Regions from separate parts of the Homo sapiens genome. Here all the other regions are linked to region 6. Evidence: fine-mapped expression QTL. A gene starts in region 6. Each other region holds a variant in brackets. All regions are shown on one strand. Distances are from middle to middle.

Region 1 (4,326 bases), 42 kb after region 6:
TTGAACCCGCGAGGCGGAGGTTGCACTGAGCCAACATCACGCCACTGCACTCCAGCCTGAGCGAGACTCTTTCCAAAAAAAAAAAAATGCTACAAAAATAACATTCTCATTCACCAGTCTCACTCAGTTGTTGGAGAAATTACTTAATTTTTTAAAAATTGTGAGGTAAGATGGTATAATTTGGAGTTTTTCCTCGTGTTTCCAATTTCTCAGAAATTTGGTTACACTGTATTTATAGTTTTAAGAATAAATTTCGGCCGGGCGCGGTGGCTCACGCCTGTAATCCCAGCACTTTGGGAGGCCGAGGCGGGTGGATCACGAGGTCAGGAGATTGAGACCATCCTGGCTAACACGGTGAAACCCCACCTCTACTAAAAATACAAAAAATTAGCTGGTTGTGGTGGTGGGCGCCTGTAGTCCCAGCTACTGGGGAGGCTGAGGCAGGAGAATGGCGTGAACCCGGGAGGCGGAGCTTGCAGTGAGCCCAGATCACACCACTGCACTCCAGCCTGGGTGACAGCGAGACTCCGTCTCAAAAAAAAAAAAAAAAAAAAAAAAAAAAAAAGAATAAATTTCATTCATTTGATTTAAATTTTATCATGAAATAGTTCAGTCATACACAAAGGCATAAGAAGTATAACAACAAAACAATCATGTACCCACTACAGCTCAAGAAATATCCCTTCCTCCAGGAGATAACTACTATCATAAATTTGTGTTTATCATTCTCACTCATTTATCTGTATGTACTTTTACCAACATATACACATTCTTATACAAATACAGTATTGTTTTGCATGATTTTAAATGGAATATGCACTGCATAAATATAATCCTGCTATGTACTCCTCTTAATACTTTAGTACTAACGTTGTAATTTTCACAATAACCATAAGATGTGGAAAATATTATCCCCACTTTACAGATAAGAAAATGAAGGCCAATCAAGGTTGGAGAATTGCCAAGGTCTTACTGTTAGGAAAGAACAGAAGCAGGTTTGAACCAAGTGAGCCTGACACCAGAACATCTGCATGACTATGCCACACTATTTCAAATGCTGTTATACTATCAGTATTCTTATGCCATCTTCTTTTTCCCTCAGCATTATGTTTTCAAGATTCACCATGTTGATACATGTAACCCTAATTCATTATTTTCACTGCTGTATGGTATACTGTTCAATAAATAGACCACAGGTAATTTGTTCATTCTTCTATTAATAGAAGACATAACCAACAATGTGGCAAGTGCATACTTGTACATGTCTCCTTGTGCATATGTGCAAGAGTTTCACTAGGGTATATGCCTACAGATACAATTTCTGGGTTACATAATATGTGCATCTTCAAATTAACAAGATATTCCCAAGTATTCTCCAAAATGGATATCATTTTACTTTCAGGAAATAAGTTTGTAAGAAATTCTGCTGTCCATAGTTACCATGTATAAAAAAGATACTACAATAAAAGAGAAGAAAACATCAAGAAAAATGACAAAAAATAGGAGCCAAAATAGAATAGCAAAGTCACCCAAGTCTGCCATTTATAAATTCTTCCTCTTAAGTGCATGCAACAGAGGTGAAACACAGCATTTCTCTACTCTCAATTTTCCTTGCCTTCTAAGCAATATTCAACTCTCAGACCTTCTCTGAAGAGTGTGGACATGAGAGTTTACTACAAATATTAAAATTTCTGAATTTGACATGAATCACGTTAAGGTGGATTTCCCTCACAATTCAGCATTTCATTTGATCCCTCTCCTCCTCAAGCATTGCCATCGGTTTCTTCCCTACCAGCTTGAAACTTCCTATTTAATTTCATTCAAAATGATGGAGTATGAAAGAGCTGAAATGCTCTGTTTCATATGGAGATGTAGATACAATATAGAGACATACCTATAGACCTCAAGTAAGTTTTCTCAGCAAAGACCCATGATAAAGTTGTAAGAAAACAACAAATTTGGCATGATATTTTAGTTCGATAATTTAGATGCATCCAACTAGTAACAAATCTAACTGCATTTTAAAATAAAAATTTAGCCCTAGTTCATGATTTTCACTACT[A/G]TATGTGTACTGTTCGATAAATAGACCATAGGTAATTTGTTCATTCTATTCAAGTGAAGGATGATGACAGCCTGAACTAGAGAATGTGATAGGTATGGAGAGGTGGTGACAGAGAGGAGGCAGAATGGCAGGATTTGTCAATCAGATATGAAGGGTGAGAAGAAAAGACAGAGGGAGGAAGGATGTTCCAAAGTGTCCAGACTGTGCGATTTAATTTCCTTCACCTCCCTGTCAAATGATAAGTTTGAATGCCAGCAGCACCAAAGCATCGTATGATTGAAGATCTTTTGTTTCCCTAGATGCATGATAAGGCAAGGCTAAAAGCCCCCAAGAAAATCAGAATGGCAAAATAGCCCCATCACATACTCATGTAGAAGGAGAGAACTCAGAAATGAATATTCTTTCTCAAGTGATGGCCTGATCTCCCTTTTCCATTTACCGCCTGATCTCCCTTTTCCATTTACCTCCTCCTTTTCATCATATTGCTTCTTACCCTGTCTTAAGGTACAATGTTTTGGGGTAAAAAGGGCACTCACCCTCATACGACAGTCAATGAAAGTGTAAATTACAGCAAGCTCTTTGGTTTTTGTTGTTGTTGTTGTTTTTGAGACAGAGTCTCACTCAGTCACCCATGCCAGATGGTGCAATGGCACCACCTTGACTCACTGCAACCTCCGCCTCCCAGGTTCCAGCGATTCTCCTGCCTCAGCCTCTTGAGTAGTTAGGACTACAGGTGCCCGCCACGATGCCTGGCTAATTATTTGTATTTTTAGTAGAGACAGGGTTTCACCACGTTGGCCAGGCTGGTCTTGAACTCCTGACCTCAAGTTCTCCGCCTCCTTGGCCTCCCAAAGTTCTGGGATTACAGGCATGAGCCACGCGCCTGGTCTACAGTAAGCTTTTTGAAAAACAATATGGCAGTATTCTCCAAGAGCTTAACTATATTCATAGATTTAGGTCAGATAATTCTAGCTCTGGTAATTTAACCTAAAAAAGTAATTATCTGGAAAAAATATTCATGTACATAAATGTTTATTTTGGAAATATTTATAACAGTAAAAAACTAAAAACAATCTCCATGTAAAAAATTTGTACCTTGTGAAATTAGACACATCTCTCTTTTCATTAATGTTTTAAAAGAATTTTTAAATGAAAGAATGGTTATATTATAATGTTAAGAAAAAAACGGCCAGGCGAGGTGGCTCACACCTGTAATCCCGACACTTTGGGAGGCCAAGGCAGGTGGATCACGAGGTCAGGAGATCGAGACCATCCTGGCTAACATGGTGAAACCCCATCTCTACTAAAATACAAAAAATTAGCCGAGCACGGTGGCACGCACCTGTAGTCCCAGCTACTCAGGAGGCTGAGGCAGGAGAATCGCTTGAACCCAGGAGGCGGAGGTTGCAGTGAGCCGAGATCACACCACTGCACCCAGCCTGGGTGACAGAGCACGACTCCGTCTCAAAAAAACAAAAAAAAAAGAAAAAAAGAAAAGAACAAGGCTGAGGTGGAGGATCACTTGAGGCCAGGAGTTCGAGACCAGCCTGGGCAACATAGCGAGCCTCTGTCTATACAAAAAATATTCAAAATATTATCCAGGCATGGTGGCTCATACCTATAGTACCAGCTACTCAGGAGGCTGAGGCAGGAGAACCCCCTGAGCCCAGAAGTTCAAAGAGGTTATAGTGAGCTATGATCGCACCACTGCACTCCAGCCTTGGTGACACAGCGAGACTCTGTCTCTTAAAAAGAAAGAAAGAAAGAAAAAGAAAAAACAGTATAAAAGTAAATATCTATTATAATGTCAAGTTTATTTTATAAAAGCATAGTAAAAACTGGAAAAAAATATATCAGGATTATGATATAGGTGATTTTTGTTTTCTTCATTTTATTTTTCTCAAATTTCTATAATGTAATTTCTTATATAATGAGAAGAAAGGGTGCTTTTTTCCAACCCTACCCCACATCCACCTGTTAGATCAATTCCGAGGTGTTAAAGCAAGATCGTTGACAAAGCAAAATAGTTAAAAGACAAGCACAGTTCCGCTGGGCGCAGTGGCTCACTCTTGTAATCCCAGCACTTTGGGAGGCCAAGGCAGGTGGATCAAGAGGTCAGGAATTTGAGACCAGCCTGACCAACATGGTGAAACCCCGTCTCTACTAAAAATACAAAAATTAGGTGGGCGTGGTGGCGCACACCTGTAACCCCAGCTACTCAGGAGGCTGAGGCAGGAGAATTGCTTGAACCCAGGAGGCGGAGG
Region 2 (4,326 bases), 25 kb before region 6:
AAAACATGAATGACATCAGACCTCACCTACAATACTAATCACCACAAGACAACAGACTAGTTGTCTAGAACACAGGTCACAAACTATAGCCCTAAGACTAAATCTGGTCTGTTGCCTGTTTTTGTAAATAGAGTTGTATTGGAACACTGTCTGTTTTGGTACCGTCTATGGTTTCTTTCATATTGCAGTGGCACAATCGAGCTGCTGTCAAAGATTCCATGGCCTGAAAAGCCTAAAATATTTACTATCTAGCACTTGACAGAAAATAATTGCCAAATCCTGGGCTAGAATTCTGGGTGGACAAAAGAAACAAAAACAAAAAACTGTGACCCTAGAATTCTATCCTATTCAAGAATTCACTGATGTGTACAAAGACAGCCTCAAAAATAAAAGCATTCTGAAAACATACCACTCACGGACCATGCTGAAAAAAACTACTTAAAGGAATATTCCATCTGACCAAGAAATTCATCAAAATACATAAATCAAGAATAAAGAAGATATGCTATAACAGTAGGAACAAGGAATCATGAACCCAGGAAAATTTACAGTTCAGTTTAAATGACTCTTCTCTATACTCTATAATATAGTAAGAAAATAATCGAATGTCAATGAAAAAAATTCTTTAAAGAATATACACATCTTTAAACTACTATTAATTTTAAACACCAGTTTATGTTGACAAAAGCTAGAAAGAAAAAGCACATTGGCCGGGCGTGGTGGCTCATGCTTGTATTCCCAGCACTTTGGGAGGCCAAAGCAGGCAGATCACCTGAACTGAGGAGGTCGAGACCAGCCTGGTCAACATGGTGAAAGCTGTCTCTACTAAAAATACAAAAAATTAGCTGGGCGTGGTGGCACATGACTGTAATCCCAGCTACTGGGGAGGCTGAAGCAGGAGAATTACTTGAACCTGGGAGGTGGAAGTTGCAGTGAGCCAAGATTGCTCCATTCGACTCCAGCCTAGGCAACAGAGTGAGACTCTGTCTCAAAAAAAAAGAAAAGAAAAGGCACATTTAATTTCTTGTCTTTCACAGGGGTAAGGTCAATAAATACTATATTTATAATGCTAGTGAGAATTTGAGGCTAAAAATATTTTAATGTAACCAATAGTAGAAATGAATGCATAATTATGAAGTACTAGAGGGAAAAAAGGACACAAAGAAAAGGAAATGACAAAAAAAATTGTCTCCCAAAAACATGATGACAAAGGTAACAGAAAGAAGGCCAGACACATGCATTATTCCCAAAAAAAGAGGACAGACTGAACAGCCTAACTAAAAGACTACCAGTTGGGTACAAATATCAAAAATTCAATCATAAGCTATTTACAGAGGGATGCCCCACAGAAAATTGATGAGGGGAGAATTCAAGACAAAGGGATTTTTTTTTTTTTTAGTGTTCAATTTCCACTTTATCTTCTTTCATTACCTCTTTTATAATTAACGATTCATTTGCAGTTTTGCTGAATAAAAAAATTATACAAATATTCTCAGACAAAAAAAATTAATGCCAAACTTAAAGGTGATTACTAGAAAAATAGTACTTTTAAGTACTACCAAGGAAACTCTGTATAATGTTTGAAGTGACAATTTGAAATGCTTAAACAAAAAGAAAAGAAGAAAATTAAATGCTGACTTCAAATGCTATTAAAATTAAAATTTTTTACATAGGCCGGGCACGGTGGCTAATGCCTGTAATCTCAGCACTTTGGGAGGCCGAGGCATGGATCACGAGGTCGGGAGATTGAAACCATCCTGGCCAAC[A/G]TGGTGAAACCCCATCTCTACCGAAAAAATACAAAAATTAGCCGGGCATGGTGGTGGCCACCTGTAATCCCAGCTACTAGGGGTGCTGAGGCAGGAGAATCGCTTGAACCCAGGAGGTGGAGGTTGCACTGAGCTGAGATAACACCACTGCACTCCAGCCTGGCGACAGAGCAAGACTCCGTCTCAAAAAAAAAAAAAAAAAAAAAAAAATTTAAGTATAGCTACTTTATTTCATTTTAATAGAATACACGAGGCCCAAACAGAAATCCTGCAGTTCAATCAAAATAAGTCTTCAAACTAATGAAGCTTTTTTATGCTATACTCTTTACAGAGATCATTAAGCACACTACAATGAAGAAATCCCATTTTCTCTGATCTAATTCTGTAACATTACCAGGTAACACTGTGGAGCCCTATGACCTTCTGGTCTTGTAGGGCTCAGGGATCATGGGTGTTTAAATAGGGAAATGTCATGTGAGTGATGCAGGACAGGTGAGCCCCAAAACTGGGGTTATGCCCAGGAGGGTTTTTGGCTTTGCCGGGAAAGAATTCAGGAGTGAGCCTTTGACTGAACAGTACTGCTCCTTGCAGAGTAGGGCTAGCGCTCAGGCAGTAGCCCAGAGTCAGCAAGGCAGGGGCTCCTGGCAACTGTATTTAACATTCAGGTAAACCCACATTTGGCTATATGTAAATTAAGGGGCAGGTCAATGCAAATTGAGGTTATTTAGAACTTTCTACAAAAGGATCGTAATTTCCAGGTTGTTGCCATGGAAAGGGGTAGTAACTTCCAGGTCATTGCCATGGCATTTGTAAATCGTCATGGTGCTGGTAGGAGTTTCTTATGCCAATGAGCAATGACAGCAGCCAGGGATCACTTTTGTCATCGTCTGCTGGTTTCTGCCGGTTTCTCCATTTTATCCTGTCTGGACCACATCCTGTTTTGGTCAGCAGTGTCGTGACCAAAAAGCAAGTCCTGCTGGTCTGTTACCTCATGAGAAAGGATGCCTTTTCACCATAGGGCTGTGCACTTCTGAAAGACCTTAGAGGCCCAGCCTAGCTGACCATTAGGGAGACCACAGGGCTTGCAAGTAGGACGCAGTCAACACCACAGGGCACTCAGTAAAACCTCCAGGAAACAGAGTGAGAACAGCAAAAGAGGAAGCTCAGGGCTTCAGGACCCTTCACCTTTCAGTCCCCATCCTTCTTTCTGTATCCCTATCTCAATCCCATTGTGACGCCTCCTGGTGCCAGGCTCCAGCTATAGATATATGATGTAGTGGTTTAGGGCTGGGGTCTTAACAGCCAAAGGGACCTGGGTCTTAATATTATTTCTGCCACTCATGAGTTGTGTGACCATCGATAAGGTACTTCATCTGAGCCTTTTTTCTGATCTATAAAATAGAGGAGCAGGATATTAATAGCACCCATGCCTCTGCAGGGTATGGAAAGAATCAAATGAAGCAATGCAAAATAATTGCTTAGCACAGTTTCTGGCAGGTAGTAAGTACTCAAGAAATTTGGACTGTTATTACATTATGCATCTCTCCCACATACCACATCCCTGAAAAATCAGAAATTTCCTCTCCTGAACATTCCCTTTTGCAATGATGGTAAGAAATCAGTGAAAATCCTCTCTGAAAAAAAAAATACTGTATATCAAACAAAATCATCCAAAGCCAGCCATTTCAGGGATTTGGAAGCTGACCAAAGACTGAGTAGGAACAGCAGAAGTCTCTGGTCCTCTTACCTGGTGAGGTTCCCAGGCCCCCAGCTCAGTCCTCAAGAATGGCAGTTTTACCAATATGGGGCTGGCTGGAAAAAACAGCAGCTCTGCTGCCAGAAGGGGCAGACTTAACTTGTGGTAGGGGGCTTTGTGAGCTAAACATAGGAATATTACAGGAAAAATTACAGCTTTACTTGCCAAGGTTGTAATCCCAGTTGGTGTAAGAGCATAATGGGAATGTAATGTGGCTATACTAAAATAAGAGGTCCATAGAAGGGCTGAGATAAACTCTTCCTACATACCTGGCTGACTAGAAACTATAGGGATATGCAGGGAAGATCTGAGAGAGCTTGGCAGAGAGTAACAGCCAAGGACAACTAGAGAAGTGCTAAAACTTGAATGCACTCTGCAACTCACAGACAGATCAATCAGTGGAGCTTCATGCATTCCAGTGTTTGAAAACAACTACTATCTAAATCACTGGCTCAGAATCACTTCTAGAATGGCAGAGTAGAAAACTAAAAATCTGCTCCTTAATAAAACCAGCAAGAACATTGGGAAAAATGGTCAAAATCAACTTTTCAAAACTCTAGAAATTAGTCAAAGGCTTACACCAATCTAAATGTTTATTCTCTGTAAGAACAGTGAGCTTTGTGCCTTTTCAACTTGCCCCATTCCCATCCCCCTCTCCCCAGCTTCATGGTAGACTTGAAAATCAACAGCCTTACAACTAAAATAGCTGTGACAACCACCAACAGCCTGGCAGCCAATGGAGGGGCAGAACAGGTTTGGAGCTCAACAAAAGCTCCATCCCAGAAAACTGTCACTAATTAATTT
Region 3 (4,326 bases), 50 kb after region 6:
CCAGAGGGCCTGACTGTGGGCTGGTGTATGGAACTGCTGCAAGCTTTCTTCCTGGTGACAGATGACATCATGGATTCATCCCTCACCCGCTGGGGACAGATCTGCTGTTATCAGAAGATGGGCATGGGGTAGGATGCCATCAATTATGCTATCCTTCTGGAAGCATGTATCTACTACCTGCTGAAGCTCTATTGCCAAGCACAGCCCTATTACCTGAACCTGATCGAGCTCTTCCTGCAGATTTCCTGTCAGCCTGAGATTGGGCAGACCCTGGACCTCATCACAGCCCCTAGGACAATGTGGATTTTGGCAGATTCACTGAAAACAGGTACAAATCTATTGTCAAGTACAAGATAGCTTTCTACTCTTTCTACCTTCCTGTAGCTGCAGCCATGTACATGGTAGGAATCGATGGTGAGAAGCAGCACGCCAATGCTTAGAAGATCCTACTGGAGATCGAGAGTTTTTTCAAATTCAGGATGGTTACCTTGACCTCTTTGGGGACCCCACTGTGACCCGCAAAGTTGGCACTGACATCCAGGACAACAAATGCAGCTGGCTGGTGGTTCAGTGTCTGCAACGATCCACTCTGGAACAGTACCAGATCCTGAAGGAAAATTACGGACAGAAGAAGGCCAAGAAGGTAGTCCAGGTGAAGGCACTGTATGAGGAGCTGGATCTGCCGGCCGTGTTCTTGCAGTATGAGGAAGACGGTTACAGCCACATTATGGGTCTCACTGAACAGTACGCAGCGCCCCTGCTCCCAGCCATGTTTCTGGGGCTTGTGTACAAAATCTACAAGCAGAAAAAGTGACCTAGAGACTGCAAGGACTCGGGAGAGGAGGCACTCAATAAATATTGTGTAAAAAAAACAAAAACAAAAACAAAAACAAAAAAAAAGATACAAAATATATAGAAATATCTTTATTTACATTTTTTTCTATATTTTATTAACTGGCTCTGTTTGTGAGAGGACCTGGAAGCAATAACACACCAGTAGCAATGAAATCTAACATCAAGATCTTGGTTTCTTAATATCATTTTCCAATTTAAAAAAAAAAAAAGAGCTTCTTGGAGAAATGGCTGATTCTAGAGTTGGGGCAGTGAAAATCAGAGCCGAGACTGGAGTATCTTGTGGTGCCACAAAGCAAGGACATGCTCTGAAAGGAAGGGAGCATGACAAGAGGGAGCCAGGAGCTGAATCAGGGTTCCCAATGGCTAATGCTTGGACAATCTGAGCAACAAAATAATGATAATCTTACATCATAACCCATAAAATAAATATCCATAGTGCACACTGATATGAATAAATAACTAGGAGAGAAGAGATATGCTTCCTTATCACATAATTCCAGTTAATAAATGTGGAAGGAATAATGGAAATGGAAAATCACCATTAAGCAAACATTGCAGTTATAATTGTTGCAGATGAAAACTGTTGATGGATGCTAAGCTTAGTGGGTGGAAGAATGATGAGAAACATCATAATCACAAAAACACCATAATCTTAAAAATATATCCCCACAAGAAACTTAATAGTGGAGAAACCTAGCAGACACCACCTTAACTGAGTAGTCAATGTTAGCATTACTAATAAGATGACATATGTTCCCCCCAGTATGATGCACTGGAAAGGACACAGCTTTCTGTTGTATTCCTGCCAGAAATGTATAACCTCAATCTAATCATGAAAAACCATCAAACCCAAATTGAGGGACATTCTATAAAATGCCAGACTAGTAATCTTCAGAAGTCCCAAAGTCATGAAAGACAAAGACTGAGGAATTGTCACAGCTTTAAGGAGACATGACAACTAAACTGCACGATCTGTTTTAGATTTTGGACCGGAAAAGGACACTAGTGAGAAAACTGGGGAATACCAGTAAGATTTGTAGATTGGTTAATCATACTGTATCAATGTTAA[T/A]GTCCTTCTTTGGATAGTCATACTATAACTATATAAGATGTTAATGTTGGTGGCAGCTAGATGAAGTGTACTATTTTTGCAACTTTTCTGTAAAACTAAAATTAGTGCAAAATAAAAGTTCAAAAAATTTTTTAACTGTTAAATAAACATTGTGAAAGCATGTGATAGGAGAGACCATCATATGAAAAACATGGAAATTTTGGTTGACCCTATGTGTTAAGTCAAAAAACATGTAGCTGGGCACAGTGTCTCATGCCAGTAATCCCAAAGCTTTTGCAGGCTGAGAGGGGAGGATCACTTGAGCTCAAGAGTTCACGACTGGCCTGGACAACAAAGCAAGATCTCCATATCTACAAAAAAAATTTAACATTAGCCAGTTGTGGTGGCATACACCTGTGATCCCAGCTACTTGGGAGGCTGAGGCAGGAGGACCACTTGAACCCAGGAGGTTGAGGCTGCAGTGAGCACCACTGCACTCCAGTCTGAGTGACAGGCATTTTATTCACTAGAACTCCTCCTAGGAAAGTACCATGTGTATGACTTCTTTTTTTAAGAAGTACTTCTGGAAGACACTTGGGGTAGAGAGCTAGAAGCCAAAATGATAAAAACATGATCCCTCAACTGCTGTACATAAGATGACTACAGGACTTAAAGTTGCTTCCCAAAGGGAAGAGTAGAGGGAAATCACTCAAATACAAAGAAAAGATTGTGGGGATAAGAAGGCTAGTTTCTCCTGCATTGGAGGGAGAGGAGAGAAGGGGAAAGTCCCTGGAAACAACACAGCCAGGAAGAAAAATTTGAAGAATAAAAATGTCTAAGAGGAATTTTTTTTCAGTTATATTTTATGTGGCCTCTCACCTCTCTCCCCGACAAAATATTCAGTGGTCCTTATTGCACAGTCGTGTGAGTGGATTCTTGTGGGTAAACATAAGGCTGATTAGTATGGGAAAAATTTAAAAACTGGAGGATGAGGCCAGGCATGGTGGCTCACACCTGTAATCCCAGCATTTTGGGAGGCCGCCGCAGGCAGATCACGAGGTCAGGAGATTGAGACCATCCTGGCTAACATGGTGAAACCCCGTCTCTACTAAAAACACAAAAAATTAGCCAGGCATGGTGGTGGGCGCCTGTAGTCCCAGCTACTTGGGAGGCTGAGGCAGAAGAATGGCGTGAACCCGGCAGGCGGAGCTTGCAGTGAGCCGAGATCATGCCACTGCACTCCAGCCTGGGCAACAGAGCGAGAATCTGTCTAAAAAAAAACAAACAAACAAACAAAAAAAACACTGGAGGATGAGAGGAGAATGGGCATCTGGACTACAATAAGGCCAGTGATAATAGGTACCATTTCTGAGTTTACTAAATGCCAGGTGCCAAGTTAAATTTCTTATGTTCCTCAAAATGAACCACAAAGTACTTATTATTACAGTATTTTTATAGAAGAGGAAACAGGTTTGGAAATCCTGTGTCTTGCCCTAGCTCACGTACGTACTACATAAAGGTTATCAGATTCTAACCCAGGATCTCCAAAACTGACACTAAAATGCACCTCCTCCTCTGTCACAGCACTGTTTTATTAGCTCTGTAGCTCTGTTCTTGTTCATCCTGTGAAGTATGAGACCGGCCCATGTTCTGTAGTCACCTGTATCTTCACTGCTCAGCACCAGGCCTGGTGTGGAACGGATGCTCGGCAGATAGCTGCTGAGTCAGTGAGGGAAGGCTGTGTCATGCGACAATGAGGTGGGAAGAGCAACTTATTAAGCTAATAAAATCCCCAGCTGCTGTTGGAAGTCCAGGTCAAGAGAAGAAACCCCATTGTACTCTTTGCTGACGGAGCTATAGCTGAAGCGCTGCACCACACTTTAAGGGTGGTATGGAAAGCTAGTTTTCAGAAGGGGCTGACTTCCTCAGCTCGGGGTGGTAGGTAGTCATTGTAGAAATTTAAAAGAAAAGCCACAGTGTCACCAGGGAAAACCCAATAACCAAGTGCCATGCGGTCTCACTGGTTGTGTTTGGGAAGTACTACCACTAATCAATGTATAAACCAAGTGCCAATTTGCAGGAAGAAATAAAATTATCATGCAAACGATAATACAGTCAGCCTGCACAGAGCATTCTCTCCATTTAGATAGATCAGGAGGTTGCTGGTGACCCCTCCTTCCCCCGTTCCACCATCACCCCCACCCCCACTCCAAGGAAATGACTTTTCAGCTGAAATCACAAGGCTAAGTATGCATTCTTTAGGTGAGAGAGTGAGAACAGGGAAGAGAGAAAAACTGGAAAATTTTTCATGAAGAAACAACTGTATATACAAAGTTTCTAAAGGGAAACATGGCATGATATTTTAGAGGAATTGAAAGGTGGCCACAATGGCTAATCAACCAAGAGCCAAGAGGAGAGAGGCA
Region 4 (4,326 bases), 170 kb before region 6:
GAGCTCCTCTCAAACTGCTCCTGCTGGCAGATACAGGAGCCAGCAGGAGAACCTGATGCAGGGTAGGCACACCTCAAAACCCGGACTTAGCCTGGGAGGGTTCTTGGCTTCACCTGGGAAGGAATTCAAGGGCAAGCCAGTGGTGTTAAACAGGAACTCTGATTGAAGCAGCAGTGTACAGCAGCAGCAGAGGTGCTGCCCCTTGCAGAGCAAGGCTACCCCATAGGCAGTGTGCTCAGGGTAGCAGGTCAGAGCCAGTTCTGCGGTCATGTTTATACCCATTTTTAATCATATGAAAATTAAGGGGCAAACTGCAGAAATTTCTAGAAAAACGGTGGTAACTTCTAGGTTATCAGTCATTGACATGGAAAAGGGTGGTAACTTCTGGGTATTGCCATGGCAATGGTAACCTGACATGGCACATTTGTGGGCATGTCTTATGGAAAGGTACGTCCACCCTGTCCTTGTTTTAGCTTGTCCTCAATTTGGTCCAGTGTCTGAGTGCTGCCTCTGGAGTCAAACCTATCCACGGTGATGCTACCTGGGCAAGGGCCTTACCTCCCAGTTCTGTTGTTTCATGTTGCCACAAAGCCATGTCTGAAGAAAACTACAAAGCAAAACATCTAGGCCTGTAGCTAACACAGATATATTAAAAAGCTGAAGCCTAGATTCAAAGAGCACTTAAAATTTTTCTGTGCAACAAGAAAGCTAGAAGTAGGTGGTTACTGACATCGATCCAGTAGATTTAGGGCTAACATCTCTGAGATTTTCTTGGCTTTTCCCTCATATTCCTCCCCCAAACTGCTGCAACTCCAGCCACCATATCTGCATTCCAAGCAAAAAGGAAAAGGCATATCAGCTGAATCTGTTCCTCAATGGACAAGAGAAATTTTCTTAAAGAGCAAAATGAAGGGTAGCCAAATTGACTGATGATGAGTCACCCCACTGCCAGAGAAGGGAATTGTTCCTTTTCCACTACAGCAGAACATGTGACCACAGCATGTTATTTCTCCTCTCTTTTTCTATAAGGGGAGACTTTATTGTGGTTATACAGTATAGGAGTTATCTGTTTCCTTCAAGTAGCAATGCAAAGCAGAGACTTAAGCAATGAAGACATTTAATTACCTCACATTGAGGGATGTCTGGAGGAAATGAGTTCCAGTTTTCGAAAGTAGTTCAAGGATATGATCAAGAGCAAAGCCCTTCCTACCTGTCTGCTCTGGCATTCTCAGTAGATTCGCTTTTTGTCTTTAGTTGTATAGGATTGATATGTAGTCTTAGGAGAGATATTCTCTCTCTGCTGGGGTTTCCATGCTGGCAAGATGTGAATCTGAGGCCTTTGGAGAAAACTTTCTTACCACATGGAAGACAGTTTCTGCAGGGCCAGGTCAGCAGTCAGGAAAAAGTCAAGACTCAAAAAGAGGAACTGTACCATGACAGCACCATCTGAGCTCCTACGTCCAAGCGGCCCAGAGTCCACCTCCACATGTCCCAGTTACTGTGCCCACAGCTCTCCCTTTTTATTCTTTCTTCTCCCATTTCTCTTTTTATGGGTGTGTGGGGGAGTTTAGAAATAGAGTGGTCCAGCAACGCCACTTTTGGATATATATCCAAAAGAATTGAAAGCAGGGTCTTGAAGAGACATTTGCACACCCATGTTCATAGCAGTACTATTCAAAATAGGCAAAAGAAAGAAGTAACCCAAGTGTCCATTGACAGATAAATGAATAAACAAAATGAGGTGTATACATATGATGGAATATTTTTCAGCCTTAAAAAGGAAGAACATTCTGATATGCGCTACAACATGGATGAATTTGAAGACATTATGCTAAGTGAAAGAAGCCATTTACAAAAGGACAAATATTGTAGGATTCCACCTACATGAGGTACCCAGAGTGGTCAAGTTTACAGAGGCAGAAAGAAGAATGGTGGTTGCCAGGGCTGGGATGAGGGGGAATGGGGAGCTGTTTAATGGGTACAGAGGTTCTGTTTTACAAGATGAAAACATACTGGAGAGGAGCTGCACAACAATGTGAAGGCACTCAACACCACTGAACTGCACACTTAAACCTGATTACGATGGTACATTTTATGTTACATGTATTTTGCCACAATTAAAAATTTTGAGACAAGAATTGAGTGGAGTTTTCGTCACATTCAACTAAAAGTGTCCTGACTTGAAGAAGAAGAGAAGGCGAAAAAGAATGAAGCATATTGTGGAGAAAGAAGAAAAAAAGATAATGAACTGAGCACCAGAGAACCCCAACTTTTAAGGAAAATCTGGGCAAAAAGTAACCATGTAGATGGCTGGGATGAAGCTTCCTAGAAGTGAAGGTGGATGGTGATGCCCCTTCATTTATGAGACCAGGAAAGGGTCGCAAGGAAGCGAGGGCTGAAGAGTTTCGGGTTGGAGGGATTAGTCAACAAATTCAAGTGACTTTCAAGAGGCCAAATAATATAAATAGTGAAAAGTGTCTATTGGATTGGACAGTTAGAAAGTTTTTCCAGGGGGTGGATTCAATAGAACCAATAGAGAATACTTTGATGTAGTGGGTTCAAGAGCAGATGAAAAG[G/T]GAAGAGACAGAAAGCATGCATAGCTTTTCTATCACTTAAAATTAATTACACGAGTATAGTTTCCAGGTGATTAATAGTGAGGCCAAAGTTAAGAAGTAGCTCCCATTATCCACCTTGGTGGGAAAGAGCAGAAAGGCTTGTCCTTGGCACAGTCCAGGTGCCCCGTCTAGTAGACTTCCTGCCAACAGCCTGCTTTGGAGACTCAGGCTGGCCTGCTCCCTGCCTCGGTCTCTTTTCTCTCTCAGATTCTTTGCAAAATGAGGGGTAGCCATGTTTAATATTTTACTACATGTGTCTTATCACTCTCTCTCTCTCAATCTCTCTCCTCCATATATGTGTGTATGTAAGTATATTTGTGTGTGCACATGTATGTGTATATATGTAGATAGCTTTCTCTGAACTACTTGTATTTCATGGCCATAACAATGTTTTAATTTGAAGTTTTATTTTAGACTCAGGGGATTCGTGTGCAGTTTTGTGACATGGGTATATTGTGTGATGCTGAGGTTTGGGGTAAGGATGATCCCGTCACTCAGGCAGTGAGTGCAATACCTAATAGTTTTTCAGCCCTTGCACACCTCCCTCCCTCCCTTTGGAGTCCCCAGTGTCTATCATTCCTGTCTTTGTGTCCATGTGTACCCCAACGTTTAGCTCCCACTTACAAGTGAGAACATGCGGTATTTGGTTTTCTGTTCTTGTGTTAATTCACTTAGGATAATGGCCTCCAACTCCATCCATGTTGCTGCAAAGGACATGATTTCATTCTTCTTTATGACTGCACAGTATTCCATGGTGTATATTTACCACATTTTCTTCATCCAGTCCACCATGGATGGGTACCTAGGTTGATTCTATTGCCAACAGTGCTGTGATGAACATACACAGTGAGTGCGAGTGCATTTTCATAGAAAAAATTATTTTCCTTTGTATATGTACTCAGTAATAACATTACTCGGTCAAAAGGTAGTCCTGTTTTAAGTTCGAGAAATCTCCAAACTACTTTCCACAATGGCTGAACTAATTTACATTCCCACCAGAAGTATATACATATTCCCTTTTCCCTGCAGCCTCGCCAGCGTTTGTTATTTTTTGACTTTTTAGTAATAGCCATTCTAACCGGTGTGAGATGGTATCTCATGTGGTTTCAGTTGGCATTTTTCTGATGACTAGTGATGCTGAGCATTTTTTCATATATTTGTTGGCTGTGTATATGTCTTCTTTTGAGAAGTGTCTGTTGATGTCCTTTGCCCACTTTTCAATAGCATCATTTATTTTTTTGTTTGTTAAATTGTTTAAGTTCCTTATAGATCCTGGATGTTAGATCTTTTTTGGATGCATAGCTTGTGACCATTTTCTCCCATTCCATAGAGTGCCTGTTTACTCTGTTGATATTTTCTTTTGCTGTGCAGAAGCTCTTTAATTTAATTAGGTCCCACTTGTCGATTTCTGATTTTGTTGCGATTGCCTTTGAGATCTCAGCCATAAATTCTTTGCCAAGGCCAATGTCCAGAATAGTATTTCCTAGATTTTCTTCTAGGATTCTTATAGTTTTAAGTCTTACATTTAAATCTTTGATCCATCTTGAGTTAATTTTTGTTTATGGTGAAAGGCAGTGGTTGTTTCATTCTTCTGCATATGACTAGCCAGTTATCCGAGCACCATTTATTAAACAGGGAATCCTTTCCTCATTGCTTATTTTTGTTGACTTTGTCAAAGATCAGATGGTTGTAGGTGTGCAGTTTTATTCCC
Region 5 (4,326 bases), 35 kb after region 6:
TCGGCTCACTGCAACCTCCACCTCCTGGGTTCAAGCGATTCTCCTGCCTCAGCATCCATAGTAACTGAGATAACAGGTGCCCACCACCACACCTGAGTAATTTTTGTATTTTTAATAGAGACAGAGTTTCACCATGTTGGCCAGGCTAGTCTCAAACTCCTGATCTCAGGTGATCTGCCTGCCTCGGATTCCCAAAGTGTTGGGATTACAGGAGTGAGCCACTGCGCCCAGCCGAATGTTTGACTCTTTTTTTTTTTTTTTTTTTTTTTTTGAGAAGGAGTCTCGCTCGCTTTGTCGCTCCGGCTGGAGTGCAGTGGTGCAGTCTCAGCTCACTGCAATCTCCGCTTCCCGGGTTCAAGTGATTCTCCTGCAGCTGGGATTACAGGCGCCCGCCACCATACCTGGCTAATTTTTGTGTTTTTAGTAGAGACAGGGTTTCACCATCTTGGCCAGGCTGGTCTTGAACTCCTGACCTCGTGATCCACCCACCTTGGCCTCCCAAAGTCTGGGATTACAGGCGTGAGCCACCACACCCGGCCGGTTGACTTTTACAATTATATTTTTCCCTTCCAAAAGAGCAACATGTCATACTATATATGTCGTCCTTAAAACTAGGTCACTCTCCACCTCCTGAGAGCCAACAGCCCTTAGGAGTTGCTGAGGAGAGAGTATGAGGACAAGAATATTTCCTTTCTATCCTTAACCTTGCCAGGATCTTCCTCTTTCTGGTGAACTATGATACCCTGTCCTCTCTGGTGACTCAGAAGCGTTAGAGCATTTTTTTTAAGTCACTGTAAATGTGACTGTTGTATAGATACAAGAACTGTTATATAGATACAGAGCTAGTAGGTGTCTAAAGTATGCATCGCAGTTAGCCCAACTAGCTTTTCAGGGGTTGTCTTTTATGATAGCCTTGCTTTCTTACTGGAAGAGGGACTGTCTTCTTTTCTAAGCAGGTGTGGCCATTTTCATAACTTGCTCCTACATGCATGTTAGCGCTTAGCAAAATTCCTGACAAAGTGGAAAATATTACAAGCCACTAAAAGCATTTAGAATGAAAAACTGTTACTCAATGGCTTAAAGATATTTAGCCATTCTAAAATCCTAAATCAAAGTGTGTGTGTGTGTCTGTCTGAGCACATGCTAAAAAGTAATTTAGAAATTACTAGACATAGAAATATTTGCATTTCCTTAGAAAATGCTCACTCCTTTGACAAAACCTTTGCTATCCAATCCATCCATTTTTTAAAATAACAGATCATTTCACTAGACGGTCTGTTCATTTAATCTTCATGGGTACAGATGGTCAGGTATTTTCTATTTATCCTCTTTCATTTATTCCTTACCAGCATCCTTCCTCCAGATGTGCCTCCCTCTGGTCTATCAAAGGGCCTCTTCTTCACTGTCTTGGCACAATGCAATTTTACAAAGGAATCCCAGGAACCTTAAAGGTTAGGTATATAAGAATTGAAAGCTTGGTGGCAAAAAGAAAGGGGAGTTTCTTAGGGGGATTCTGTCTAGACGGTGGTCCCCTACCACACTGTTGGGGGGCATATATTATATAGATGTAGGGGTGGGTAAGTCTGTGATCAGAGCAGAGGGTGAACAGGTTCTTGAACTGTTAGGAAGCTGCTGTCTTACCCAAAGTGAAACAAATACCTTGTCTTTCACCATTTTTCTGGCAGGAGATGGAAAAATAAGATTCTTAAATAACATCTACTATTTCTTTTTTTTTTCTTTAGTATATCAGTAGGACAGTGAAGTTGGAAAAGTGGAATATGAACCACTTCTGAATGTCTTTGATGTTTTAGAGAAAGTACTATTCGAAGATGGAAGAAAACATACTAGAAATAATCCAAATCTCCAAGTCAATAAAATAAGTCTCAATAATCTGCCCTAGGATTTAAAATATATTATTCTGAGTATTGACTTGGAGATGCAATGGAGAGAGTAGATTATAAATAGAAACTTGTATCAAGCAAAAGTAAATTAAGCTGCCATTAAGATACTTATATAATTAGCCTTCTAAGAAGTTGAGCGAATTCTATTTCTGAGTCTTTGGGCACCCCTGGAGTATTACACAGACAAGGACATCATCAACTATTCAATTTGACCAAGTATGTCTACAAAGTTACTTTCTGTCCATCATCCTTCTTATGTAGACAAAGTTATATGTGCCCTGGAAGTTTAATTCTGTAAATATCCAGGTCTCCAAACTGGCCCAGTAATAATAGTAACAGCTATTGACCACTTTTATGACACGTAATAATTCATTTAAAACTCACCATAGTCTTTAGAGGTAGCTGCTGTTACCATCATCATCTCCATTTTACAAATGAAGAAACTGAAACACAGAGAGGTTAAATAATTTCCAGTCCCATAGCCAGAAGGTAGTGGAGCTGAATTTGAACCCAGCTGATCTGACTTCAGAATTGCGCTCACAATCTTCTTTGGCCCATGAACATGATGAGTTCTCCATTCTTCTACTTAAGAAAGTATTAATACCTAGTTAGCCACCCTCTGGGGTAGGGATTGAGGAACAATGTTGAGAACTTAAGGGTCATTGCCTTTGTGATACCCAACAACTCAATCTTCTTCCTCTAAGAGCAAGTTTGCCAGTTTTGATGTCTCAGCACCTCTGGAATCCGCACTGAAGGAATCAGTTCCTTAGAGAGGAAGGC[A/G]GTTCCTGGATCTCTTGTTCGAAAGTTGGCTGTGTATTTGGGCAGTACTCCAGCTACTGGAGAGATAGGTAGGAAAGCCGGGAGACCCATCAGTCAGCAGTTTGCTAAAGTGAAGTTTCAGTGTCCAGGCACAGTGGCTCACGCCTGTAATCCCAGAATTTTGGGAGGCCGAGGCGGGCAGATTATTTGAGGTCAAGAGTTCAAGACCAGTCTGACCAATATGTTGAAACCCCATCTCTACTGAAAATACAAAAAAATGAGCCAGGCGTGGTGGTGCATGCCTGTAGTCCCAGCTACTTGGGAAGCTGAGGCAGGAAAATTGCTTGAACCCAGGGGGTGGAGGTTGTAGTGAGCCTAGATTCCGCTACTGCATTCCAGCCTGGGCGACAGAGTGAGACTCCGTCTCAAAATAAAAATAAAAATAAAGCTTCAGCATCTGAGCTTCTCGTTGCAAAGGTTAGTGAACTAGCCCAGCCTGTAGGAGTTTTTGGGAGCAGAAGTTAGCGGAAGGAGTCTTTTACCCAGGGTAGTAGTACCACCACAATCAACAAAGCAAGAAGATTTGAGAGTCAGAATTTACTGGCAACAGTCCTGGGCCTATACATCAGAGAAGAAAAATTTGAACGGGTCCTGAAATAAGATTAGAAGCAGATCTGAAAAGCCAAAGTAAAGAGCCAGGGAAACAAATGAAAGCCAGGCGCACTGGGTTCAATGCTAGATGACAGGGTGATTCTTTGTGAATGCCAAAAGGAAGTGGTTGCAGGCAGTTGCAACCTTTGTTTCCATGCCCTTTGTAGCAGGGCATTTGGAAGAAACAGTTGCATTTAAGGGTTAGGGATTCTGTGCCTTGGCAGGGTTGTGAGTTTCCAGCATTGAGACCAGTTGGTAACCAGATCTGCTCGACTAGAGCCCAATCTGCAAAGCTCCCTAATGCAGAAGGGAGCTTTACCATTGTGTAAACAGATTCTATCTTCCCATGGTTCCTAGAAACCAGATAGCCTTCATCGCACATCTTCACTCTATTCTAGAGAAATGAGGGCAAGGTGTTGGGCAGGGCAGGTTAGAGACGAATAGTCGGGTATGGCACAGGTGGCTCCCTGTTATCAGTGGGTATGGTTTACCTCACATGGGGCACCTACAAACGAAGTAGTGGCCAACAGAGCTGCTTTGTCTGTGGGCATGTTTGTCTACCTGCATTATTAGAGGACTTGTTTCCTCTTCCCTACCACAACAATCCTCCCAAATTGTTTGAGCTTTTTCTACTGCCTATTTTTGCAGCCGATGTCAGTTGATCAAGAGGTATGGCCTGGTATTTAGTCCACCTTGAGTCAGATGCAGGTATCAGTTAGCAACTCTGCTTACTAAGTACTTGAATATTGGGTTCAAATCATGTTATAGTATCATTTATAGACAACTCATGAGCAAACCACCAAAATTCTGCTGTGCAATAACAGCAGGGCAGATCATGGTATTAAATGTATTTATCCTGGCAGGGAGAAGGTATGTGTATACTGTAGGACAGCTGGAGTGTGTGTATTGCTTTCAAAGGTGGGATTGCAGGCTACATGAGAGAAAATGAATTTCCCCAACCTCTCCAACGGCCAAGATAAAAGACATGCCTTTCTATCTCTTCACCTTTGATGCA
Region 6 (4,326 bases):
CGCCAGATTCAGCCCAGATCTGTGCAGTTCCAAAGCCCATGCTAAACTGTATCCTGTCATCTCTTGCCTAAATATCCCTACTCACACTCCCCTATCCCATCTTTCCCTTCACCTGAAAGAATTCATCTTGTTCTCCGAAATTCATCTCAAACATTTTCCAATAGAAAGCTTTCCAATTTCCCCTCCCCAAGGCTATGTTTCCACAACATTGGTGTTTACCTTTATCATATATCTGGCTTCAATGCAATTCTTTATTCATGTCTGTTTCCTCTTCTAGGCTCTCTGCTCCTTTAGAGCAACAATCATATCTTTTTCATCTCCACAACCCAGTATATAGCCAAGTGTGCACTACATAGGTGTTCAACATATGTGAATGAATTAGCTAAATTTTAAACAACTAGATAGTAAGGACAAGAGTCTATATCCTTTACATCTACTAAAACACCCAGCAATGCTTCCTCATAATAGCTAAAATAATTCTGTTTGAACGAACGAATTAACATCTGTATAGATTCCCTCATACACACCTACATAGATGAAGAGAGGGGTGAAATGAGCATATATGCTTTACTGCTTTAACCCATAGGCACCTTGAATTTGAGTAAATAACGGATAATAGAATAGTGAAGGGTAATTAAGAAAGCCTGATGGTATAACTAATTCCAAGGAACATCAAGTTTCCAAATATCTGGTGTCTCTGAAGCATGATGCTGGGAAGACAGATCATCAGTTTGACTTACAACAGAATTACAAATACGTACTTATTCAGGGGACATTAAATTTTTCTTCCTCTGGTGTCTAACAAAAATGAGTCCCCAAAAACTCTTTAGAACATGCCTTCACAACAGGATATGACTGCCATTTTATTGATAAGAAAACTGACATTACATAGACTAAAAATACATAGCAGTGCAGTTGGTGAAAGTAATGAAACAGAGGTCTGCTAACCAACAAACACGGACCCTCACTTATTCCTCTCATTTCTCTCTTCTGTTTCCTACGTTCTTGGGAAGCCTGGATATGATAGCCAAGTCTTCCTTTCGTTCACTCAAGAAAAAGCATTTAATGTTGACCAACTCTGAGACAGGAAAAGCCTAGGCCCTGGAGCTACTGAGACACAGCCTTAGCCCTCCATATGCTTAGTGAAGTCCAGTCAACCTCTGAGTTCTGCCCTTTGGCATCTCCACACCTTTTTTGGTGTTCCCTCGTCTAAAGCACCTGCATCTTTCTCTGGCCATTTTACTAATATAACCGGAGTCTTACTCGTAGCTCATTAACTTTAGGCCTCACTGAGGGAACCTGGGCACTCAGGTGTTCACCCATCTCCTCTACCACAACTTTCTGTTCTCACCGTGCTCTCACCACAGCACCGTCATCCCCACGGAGGGTTTTCGAGCACCAAAAGAGCCACCCATGCAAACAAACTCCCCTCCCAGAGATAAATCTGTCAACCCCTGCCGTCCTCTCGCTCTTTAGCCCCACAACTTTCACTACCGGGCCCTCTCCCCGCCATAGTGCCAAGAGCGTCCAGACCACGACTAGGGGGCGTGCGCGCGCCGGGAGGGGAAACGTGCGCGCGCCGGGGGGTGGGGGGGCGCCTAGCCCAGCGCCAGCACGGACCATGCACAGATCAGCAATCGCTGGCCGCCAGGCCTTCGGAGGGTCTGTCCGCCGCGGCTTCCGCTACGGGCGGCCTCGCACCTTCTGGCTCAGTACGCGGGACTGGCGTAGCCGCTCCTCGGCACTCATCGCCCGCAGACGCTGCTTCAGCTCTCCCCGCAGGCTCCGCTTGGCGCTGCTCACCGCTGCCGCCGCCATCTCACGCCCAAGCCGAGTCCAGTCCCGCCCTCGGCGCCCTGGGCGCCCTCGGGTTCGGTCTCCGCCCCTGGCCGCTCCCAGGTGGATCCGCGGCCTAGGGGCGGGTCGGGGCTCGGGGAAGCGCCCCCACCCCGCTTCCGGGACGCGGGCCCGCGGCGCGCCGCGCGCTTACCTCGCCTCTGGCCCTTGGGACCCAGCCCTCGTGCGGTCCCCGTGGTCCGGCTCGCCCTCCCCGGTTAGGGGAGCGGTGGCGAGGCGCCGTCGCTGCCCTGCCGCCTGACCTCCCTGAGCCTGGGCCCTCACCGGGACCGCGGAGGCGGCAGCGCCACTGGCGGGGATGGTAAAGATGGCCGGCAGTACCCACGGTGCCTGGCATCTCTTGTACTGTTCAGTAGTGGGACTTCAGGGGCCAGAAAAGAAGGGCAAGGCAGGACATGTAGCGAAATCGTCACGAGTCGCTTAACTACAGGGATAGGTCTGACAGATGCCCCGATTTCCTTCTTGTGCAAACATCAGAGTGTAGTTACACAAAGTTACTACACACCTATGCTACACACCTGTACAGCGTATTTTGTACCGAATACTGTAGGCAATTGTAAGCACCGTGATACTTGTGTATCTAAACACAGAAAAGGTAATGTGTTGGTTGGCTACCACATCAGTAGGTATTAGGAATTTTTCAGCTCCATTATAATCTTAAGGGACCACAGTGGTTGATGGAAATGTCCTTATGTGATGAATGTATAGATGATACATAATCGGGAACACTGCTAAAGCAATAACTGTAGTGTAAAAGCCAAATTTTGCGGGTTTCTAGTGTGAATGTATTCCAGGTAATAGTGCCCACATAGGTACTTCCTGTTATAACCATCAGTGACTGTTCATTCCCACCACTCAGCTCTGATTAAAACACAAAAATGAATTAAAACTAAAAGCAGTTGGGGGGTGGGTGAGGCACTTGCAGGAAGAGGTAAAAGAAACTGTTAAGTCTTAAACTGCTCCCAGTAGACAGGCGCCTCAGATGGCATAGACGGTTGCCTCTCAGATGTGACTTCCTAAGAAAACCAGAGCTGTCTCTGCCAAAAATACGTCCCTACTGACCGCCCCAGTGTCTTAATCCCCACCGTTAAGAATCACACCTCCTAGGTAAAGCATTAATTAAGTGCCCGGTGAGAATGCACATGGCTTGAGAGGGGAGTTCTGGCTTCTTTATGGAATCTATCAACAGCTTCCAGGGAAAGCTAATGCAAGTCCCAGGGGGACTGTGTTGTAAGAAAAAGGGAAGGCCAGGCAGGTACAGCGTATACATAGTGCAATTAGATTTGCTGACCTAAAAGTTAGAACACGAGGTCTAACAAACTACGTACTTTTCTAATCTGTTCATTTTTACCAAAAAATAAAAATTAAAATTAACACTAGCTCCACGTTGAATCATTTACCAATTTTCTTTGTTCAGAATATCCCAGAGTATCCTGCATATCAGGTTGCCATATCCATCAACCCCAAATGGCAAGCCAGAGAGAGAAGGCTGGGGAGGAGGCATCAATGGAAACTCTTAAGCAGCCAGGGGCACTGGAAACTGCAGAAAGCATGGGAAGGAAGGAGGGAAGAGGGAAGCCGACCTGAGTCTGCTTCTAGCCTGAGTCCGCTTCTCAGTCTAGTCTGCAGTCTAGCCTAGTGACACAGAAAAGGACTTTTGGGGTAATGGCACACCTTAAAAGTCTGCCTGGGGCAGAAAAGACACCGCCTTCCTGGTCATCATCCCATAATTAATTGCCTGGATCCTGTGTTGAGCTTTTACCCTTTGGCTGAATTTCCAGCCAGACTCCAAAACTGAAGACAAAAATGGCATATAGAGAAAAATACATACAATTTATTCATTAAATAGGGACAAAATTTCTGTAACTCTGGAAGGTCAAGTTACATCATCAAAGTTGTTTATTTAAAAGTAGAAGTATGTGTTGGCAATCGTTTTCGTAAGAGTCAGAAAAATTAGGCCGGTTTCACAATATGGAGTGTCCTTTCTGGTCAACAGTATTGCTTCAGGACAGAAGAGCATTTCACAGATCTTTCCTGTAACTTCTAGAAAAGTCATCCAGCCAGATTTAGGCTCAAGCTTCTTTACAAAGCCATTTTCCTATGAGAGAATAAATTTAACATTTTAAAAATCATTGGAGATTAAGTATGCTGGAATAAAAAGCAAAAATATTTTCATTTAAATAATGCAAATAATCTTCTATCCCTCTAAAGGAGCATTGTGTAACAGAAACACAGTGTGGCCTACATCTGTAATTTTAATTTTTGGTAGCCACATTTTAAAAAGTACAAAAATAGGAAAAATTAATTTTTAAGATATATTTAGTGATAATGATTTCTGTATGTAATCAATGTCAAATCACTAATGAGATAGTTTTTTTCATAACAAACCTTCAAAATCTCATGAGTATTTAGTACTTACAGCGTATCTTAATTCAGACTAGCCACATTTTACTACCATAGTGAACAGCA
Region 7 (4,326 bases), 150 kb before region 6:
ATTAATGTGTGGGAGTCTAAGTCTCTTTCTAGGTCACTCAGGACTTGCTTTATGAATCTGGGTGCTCCTGTATTGGGGGCATATATATTTAGGATAGTTAGCTCTTCTTGTTGAATTGATCCCTTTACCATTATGTAATGGCCTTCTTTATCTCTTTTGATCTTTGTTGGTTTAAAGTCTGTTTTATCAGAGACTAGGATTGCAACCCCCTGCCTTTTTTTGTTTTCCATTTGCTTGGTAGATCTTTCTCCATCCTTTTATTTTGAGCCTATGTGTGTCTCTGCATGTGAGATGGGTTTCCTGAATACAGCACACTGATGGGTCTTGACTCTTTATCCAATTTGCCAGTCTGTGTCTTTTAATTGGAGCATTTAGTCCATTTACATTTAAAGTTAATATTGTTATGTGTGAATTTGATCCTGTCATTATGATGTTAGCTGGTGATTTTGCTCGTTAGTTGATGCAGTTTCTTCCTAGTCTCGATGGTCTTTACATTTTGGCATGATTTTGCAGTGGCTGGTACCAGTTGTTCCTTTCCATGTTTAGTGCTTCCTTCAGGAGCTCTTTTCGGGCAGGCCTGGTGGTGACAAAATCTCTCAGCATTTGCTTGTCTGTAAAGTATTTTATTTCTCCTTCACTTATGAAGCTTAGTTTGGCTGGATATGAAATTCTGGGTTGAAAATTCTTTTCTTTAAGAATGTTGAATATTGGCCCCCACTCTCTTCTGGCTTGTAGAGTTTCTGCCAAGAGATCTGCTGTTAGTCTGATGGGCTTCCCTTTGAGGGTAACCTGACCTTTCTCTCTGGCTGCCCTTAACATTTTTTCCTTCATTTCAACTTTGGTGAATCTGACAATTATGTGTCTTGGAGTTGCTCTTCTTTAGGAGTATCTTTGTGGCGTTCTCTGTATTTCCTGAATCTGAATGTTGGCCTGCCTTGCTAGATTGGGGAAGTTCTCCTGGATAATATCCTGCAGTGTTTTCCAACTTGGTTCCATTCTCCCCGTCACTTTCAGGTACACCAATCAGATGTAGATTTGGTCTTTTCACATAGTCCCATATTTCTTGGAGGCTTTGCTCATTTCTTTTTATTCGTTTTTCTCTAAACTTCCCTTCTCACTTCATTTCATTCATTTCATCTTCCATCGCTGAAACCCTTTCTTCCAGTTGATCGCATCATCTCCTGAGGCTTCTGCATTCTTCACGTAGTTCTCGAGCCTTGGTTTTCAGCTCCATCAGCTCCTTTAAGCACTTCTCTGTATTGGTTATTCTAGTTATACATTCTTCTAAACTTTTTTCAAAGTTTTCAACTTCTTTGCCTTTGGTTTGAATGTCCTCCCGTAGCTCAGAGTAATTTGATCATCTGAAGCCTTCTTCTCTCAGCTCGTCAAAGTCATTCTCCATCCAGCTTTGTTCCGTTGCTGGTGAGGAACTGCGTTCCTTTGGAGGAGGAGAGGTGCTCTGCTTTTTAGAGTTTCCAGTTTTTCTGCTCTGTTTTATCCCCATCTTTGTGGTTTTATCTACTTTTGGTCTTTGATGATGGTGATGTACAGATGGGTTTTTGGTGTGGATGTCCTTTCTGTTGGTTAGTTTTCCTTCTAACACACAGGACCCTCAGCTGCAGGTCTGTTGGAGTACCCTGCCATGTGAGGTGTCAGTCTGCCCCTGCTGGGGGGTGCCTCCCAGCTAGGCTGCTCGGGGGTCAGAGGTCAGGGACCCACTTGAGGAGGCAGTCTGCCCGTTCTCAGACCTCCAGCTGCGTGCTGGGAGAACCACTGCTCTCCCAGCTGTCAGACAGGGACATTTAAGTCTGCAGAGGTTACTGCTGTCTTTTTGTTTGTCTGTGCCCTGCCCCCAGAGGTGGAGCCTACAGAGGCAGGCAGGCCTCCTTGAGCTGTGGTGGGCTCCACCCAGTTCGAGCTTCCCGGCTGCTTTGTCTACCTAAGCAAGCCTGGGCAATGGCGGGCGCCCCTCCCCCAGCCTCGCTGCCACCTTGCAGTTTGATCTCAGACTGCTGCACTAGCAATCAGTGAGACACCGTGGGCGTAGGACCCTCCGAGCCAGGTGCGGGATATAATCTCCTGGTGCGCCGTTTTTTAAGCCCGTCAGAAAAGCGCAGTATTCGGGTGGGAGTGACCCGATTTTCCAGGTGTCATCTGTCACCCCTTTCTTTGACTAGGAAAGGGAACTCCCTGACCCCTTGTGCTTCCCAAGTGAGGCAATGCCTCGCCCTGCTTCGGCTCGCGCACGGTGCGCACACCCACTGACCTGCGCCCACTGTCTGGCACTCCCTAGTGAGATGAACCTGATACCTCAGATGGAAATGCAGAAA[T/C]CACCCGTTTTCTGCGTCGCTCACACTGGGAGCTGCAGACCAGAGCTCTTCCTATTCGGCCAACTTGGCTCCTCCCCGAGAAAACTTTCAACTTGCTCTTGGGCTGAAATTGTTCCTCCCACATTCCAGCTGACCACTAGGACAAAAAGTCACTTTAGGATCTCCTTTGTCTTCAATTAAGATCAAGTCCCTGAGGAGATTCTAAATCTATAAGTCTGAGAGCTGTGAAGACAATTTGACAATTGGGTGTGTGTCGGAGTACAGATAAAAATGTTCCTTCAACATGTATTTTTGAAAACTTAGTACATGCAAAACTCCATTGAATTAAAACATGAAAGAAGGGCCGTGCGCAGTGGCTCACACCTATAATCCCAGGACTTTGGGATGCCGAGGCAGGCAGATCACCTGAGGTCAGGAGTTCAAGATCAGCCTGAGCCACATGGTGAAACTCTGTCTCTACTAAAAATACAAAAATACAAAAATTAGCCGGGCATGGTGGTGTGTGCCTGTAATCCCAGCTACTTGGGAGGCTGAGGCAGGAGAATTGCTTGAACCCAGGAGGTGGAGTCTGCAGTGAGCCAAGATCATGCCACTGCCCCACTCCAGCCTAGTGACAGAGAGAGACTGTCTCAAAACAAAAAACAACAACAAAAAAACTCTTTGATGACATCCTTTGCCATAGTCCTTAACGCTACACAACTGCAGCCAACCACTTTATGGGGTTTTCCTTCTGTCAGTTTTACAGTGGTCCATCCCTTCCCCTAGTTTATTGTCATCAACCTTAATTAGGGTGATCTGGTGCTCAGCAACAAGGGCCTTCACCAGCCAGCCACATAGGCAGGCTCATTACAGTTGGGGGCAGCACAAGGATGGGCCCAGCACTTGTCTAAGGCTTTGGCAGCTTCTCGAATTCCACGTGCTAGGCCATCATGGATGAGGGCAGCCTTCAGGACCTCTTGTAAAGCAGTATTAAGGTCCATGACACCTCCAGCACTGATGCCTTCCTGGGCCATGGCGGTGGGTTATGGGTGAAGCTGATTCTTGAACACACCTGAGCCTCTGCCTCCGTGACTCAGTGGCGGTGGGGAAAGAGCAGCAGTTTGTCCTTGGTTAACACTCACTGCACCTAAAATGTGGTCTAGGTTGCATGAAAAGGGGTTAAACTTGGCCAAGAAGTTGATTAAGCATTTTGGCCAGTTTGCTTATTACCATTGATGTAAAAAAGATTAATATGTTACAGTCTCTGAGCATTTCTCTTCCGTTTTTTTAGACAAGGTCTCACTCTGTTGCCCAGGCTAAAGTACAGCAGGAGTGATCTTGGCTCACTGCAGCTGCAACCTTGACCTCCCAGGCTCAAGCAATCCTCCCATCTCAGCCTCCTGAGCAGCTGGGATTACAGGCGTGTGCCACCACACCTGGCTGATTTTTGAGGTTTTGGGGTTTTTTTGTAGAGACAGGATTTTGCCATGTTGCTCAGGCTGGTCTAGAACTCCTGGCCTCAAGCCATCAACTCGCCTTGGCCTCCCAAAGCACTGGGATTATAGGTGTGAGCCACTGTGCATGGCCTTGAAGGAGTTTCCATTTTGCCCTACTCCCCAGGTGACAATGAAAAGTAGCAAATGAGCAGGTGATTTTGACAGCAGCACTGAGCTGTCATAGACACCTTGCTAACTAGCTCAGTGTTTGCTTACTTATAGCTTTCTAGAGATAAAAATGAATGGCACACACTGGTTATCAAAAATGCCCATAAATACTGGCCAGGCGTGGTAGCTCACGCCTGTAATCCCAACACTTTGGGAGGCCAAGGCGGGCAGATCACTTGAGGTCAGGAGTTCAAGACCAACCTGGCTAACATGGTGAAACCCCGTCTCTACTGAAAATACAAAAATTAGCCAGGCATGGCAGTGTATGTCTATAATCCCAGCTACTCAGGAGGCTGAGGCAGGAGAATCCCTTGAGCCCTGGAGGCAGAGGTTGCAATGAGCCGAGATCGCAC

Evidence for each region. PIP is the estimated chance that this variant, and not a neighbour inherited with it, causes the effect. A credible set is the group of variants that fine-mapping cannot tell apart.
Region 1: its variant is the best candidate, but not a certain one, in a credible set for the expression of MTHFS in tibial nerve (GTEx, PIP 0.74).
Region 2: its variant is the best candidate, but not a certain one, in a credible set for the expression of MTHFS in whole blood (INTERVAL, PIP 0.84).
Region 3: its variant is the best candidate, but not a certain one, in a credible set for the expression of MTHFS in whole blood (TOPMed, PIP 0.54).
Region 4: its variant is the best candidate, but not a certain one, in a credible set for the expression of MTHFS in whole blood (INTERVAL, PIP 0.59).
Region 5: its variant is the best candidate, but not a certain one, in a credible set for the expression of MTHFS in tibial nerve (GTEx, PIP 0.54).
Region 7: its variant is the best candidate, but not a certain one, in a credible set for the expression of MTHFS in prefrontal cortex (BrainSeq, PIP 0.57).

The regions. Positions count from the first base shown.
Region 1 is chr15:79,937,422-79,941,747 of GRCh38, forward strand. No RefSeq gene overlaps it. Among named protein-coding and RNA genes, the nearest start is that of ST20, 16 kb to the left of the region's middle. The variant A/G (reference allele first, on the strand shown) is at 2,063.
Region 2 is chr15:79,870,153-79,874,478 of GRCh38, forward strand. All of the region lies in intron 3 of ST20-MTHFS (ST20-MTHFS readthrough), which reads right to left. The region is part of intron 2 of MTHFS (methenyltetrahydrofolate synthetase); the gene reads right to left. Among named protein-coding and RNA genes, the nearest start is that of MTHFS, 25 kb to the right of the region's middle. RefSeq lists a silencer at 4,095-4,326. The variant A/G (reference allele first, on the strand shown) is at 1,767.
Region 3 is chr15:79,944,767-79,949,092 of GRCh38, forward strand. It overlaps the pseudogene FDPSP9. Among named protein-coding and RNA genes, the nearest start is that of ST20, 23 kb to the left of the region's middle. The variant T/A (reference allele first, on the strand shown) is at 1,925.
Region 4 is chr15:79,723,575-79,727,900 of GRCh38, forward strand. No RefSeq gene overlaps it. Among named protein-coding and RNA genes, the nearest start is that of TRC-GCA5-1, 19 kb to the right of the region's middle. The variant G/T (reference allele first, on the strand shown) is at 2,577.
Region 5 is chr15:79,929,992-79,934,317 of GRCh38, forward strand. No RefSeq gene overlaps it. Among named protein-coding and RNA genes, the nearest start is that of ST20, 8.4 kb to the left of the region's middle. The variant A/G (reference allele first, on the strand shown) is at 2,682.
Region 6 is chr15:79,895,171-79,899,496 of GRCh38, forward strand. It overlaps MTHFS (methenyltetrahydrofolate synthetase), which reads right to left and starts at 1,844. Exons shown (of 3, transcript NM_006441.4): 1 at 1,702-1,844. The coding sequence starts at 1,818. All of the region lies in intron 2 of ST20-MTHFS (ST20-MTHFS readthrough), which reads right to left. It overlaps ST20 (suppressor of tumorigenicity 20), which reads right to left. Exons shown (of 3, transcript NR_037653.2): 3 at 3,672-3,955. RefSeq lists a silencer at 1,853-2,152 and an enhancer at 2,293-2,342.
Region 7 is chr15:79,748,707-79,753,032 of GRCh38, forward strand. It overlaps the pseudogene RPS12P25. Among named protein-coding and RNA genes, the nearest start is that of TRC-GCA5-1, 6.2 kb to the left of the region's middle. The variant T/C (reference allele first, on the strand shown) is at 2,331.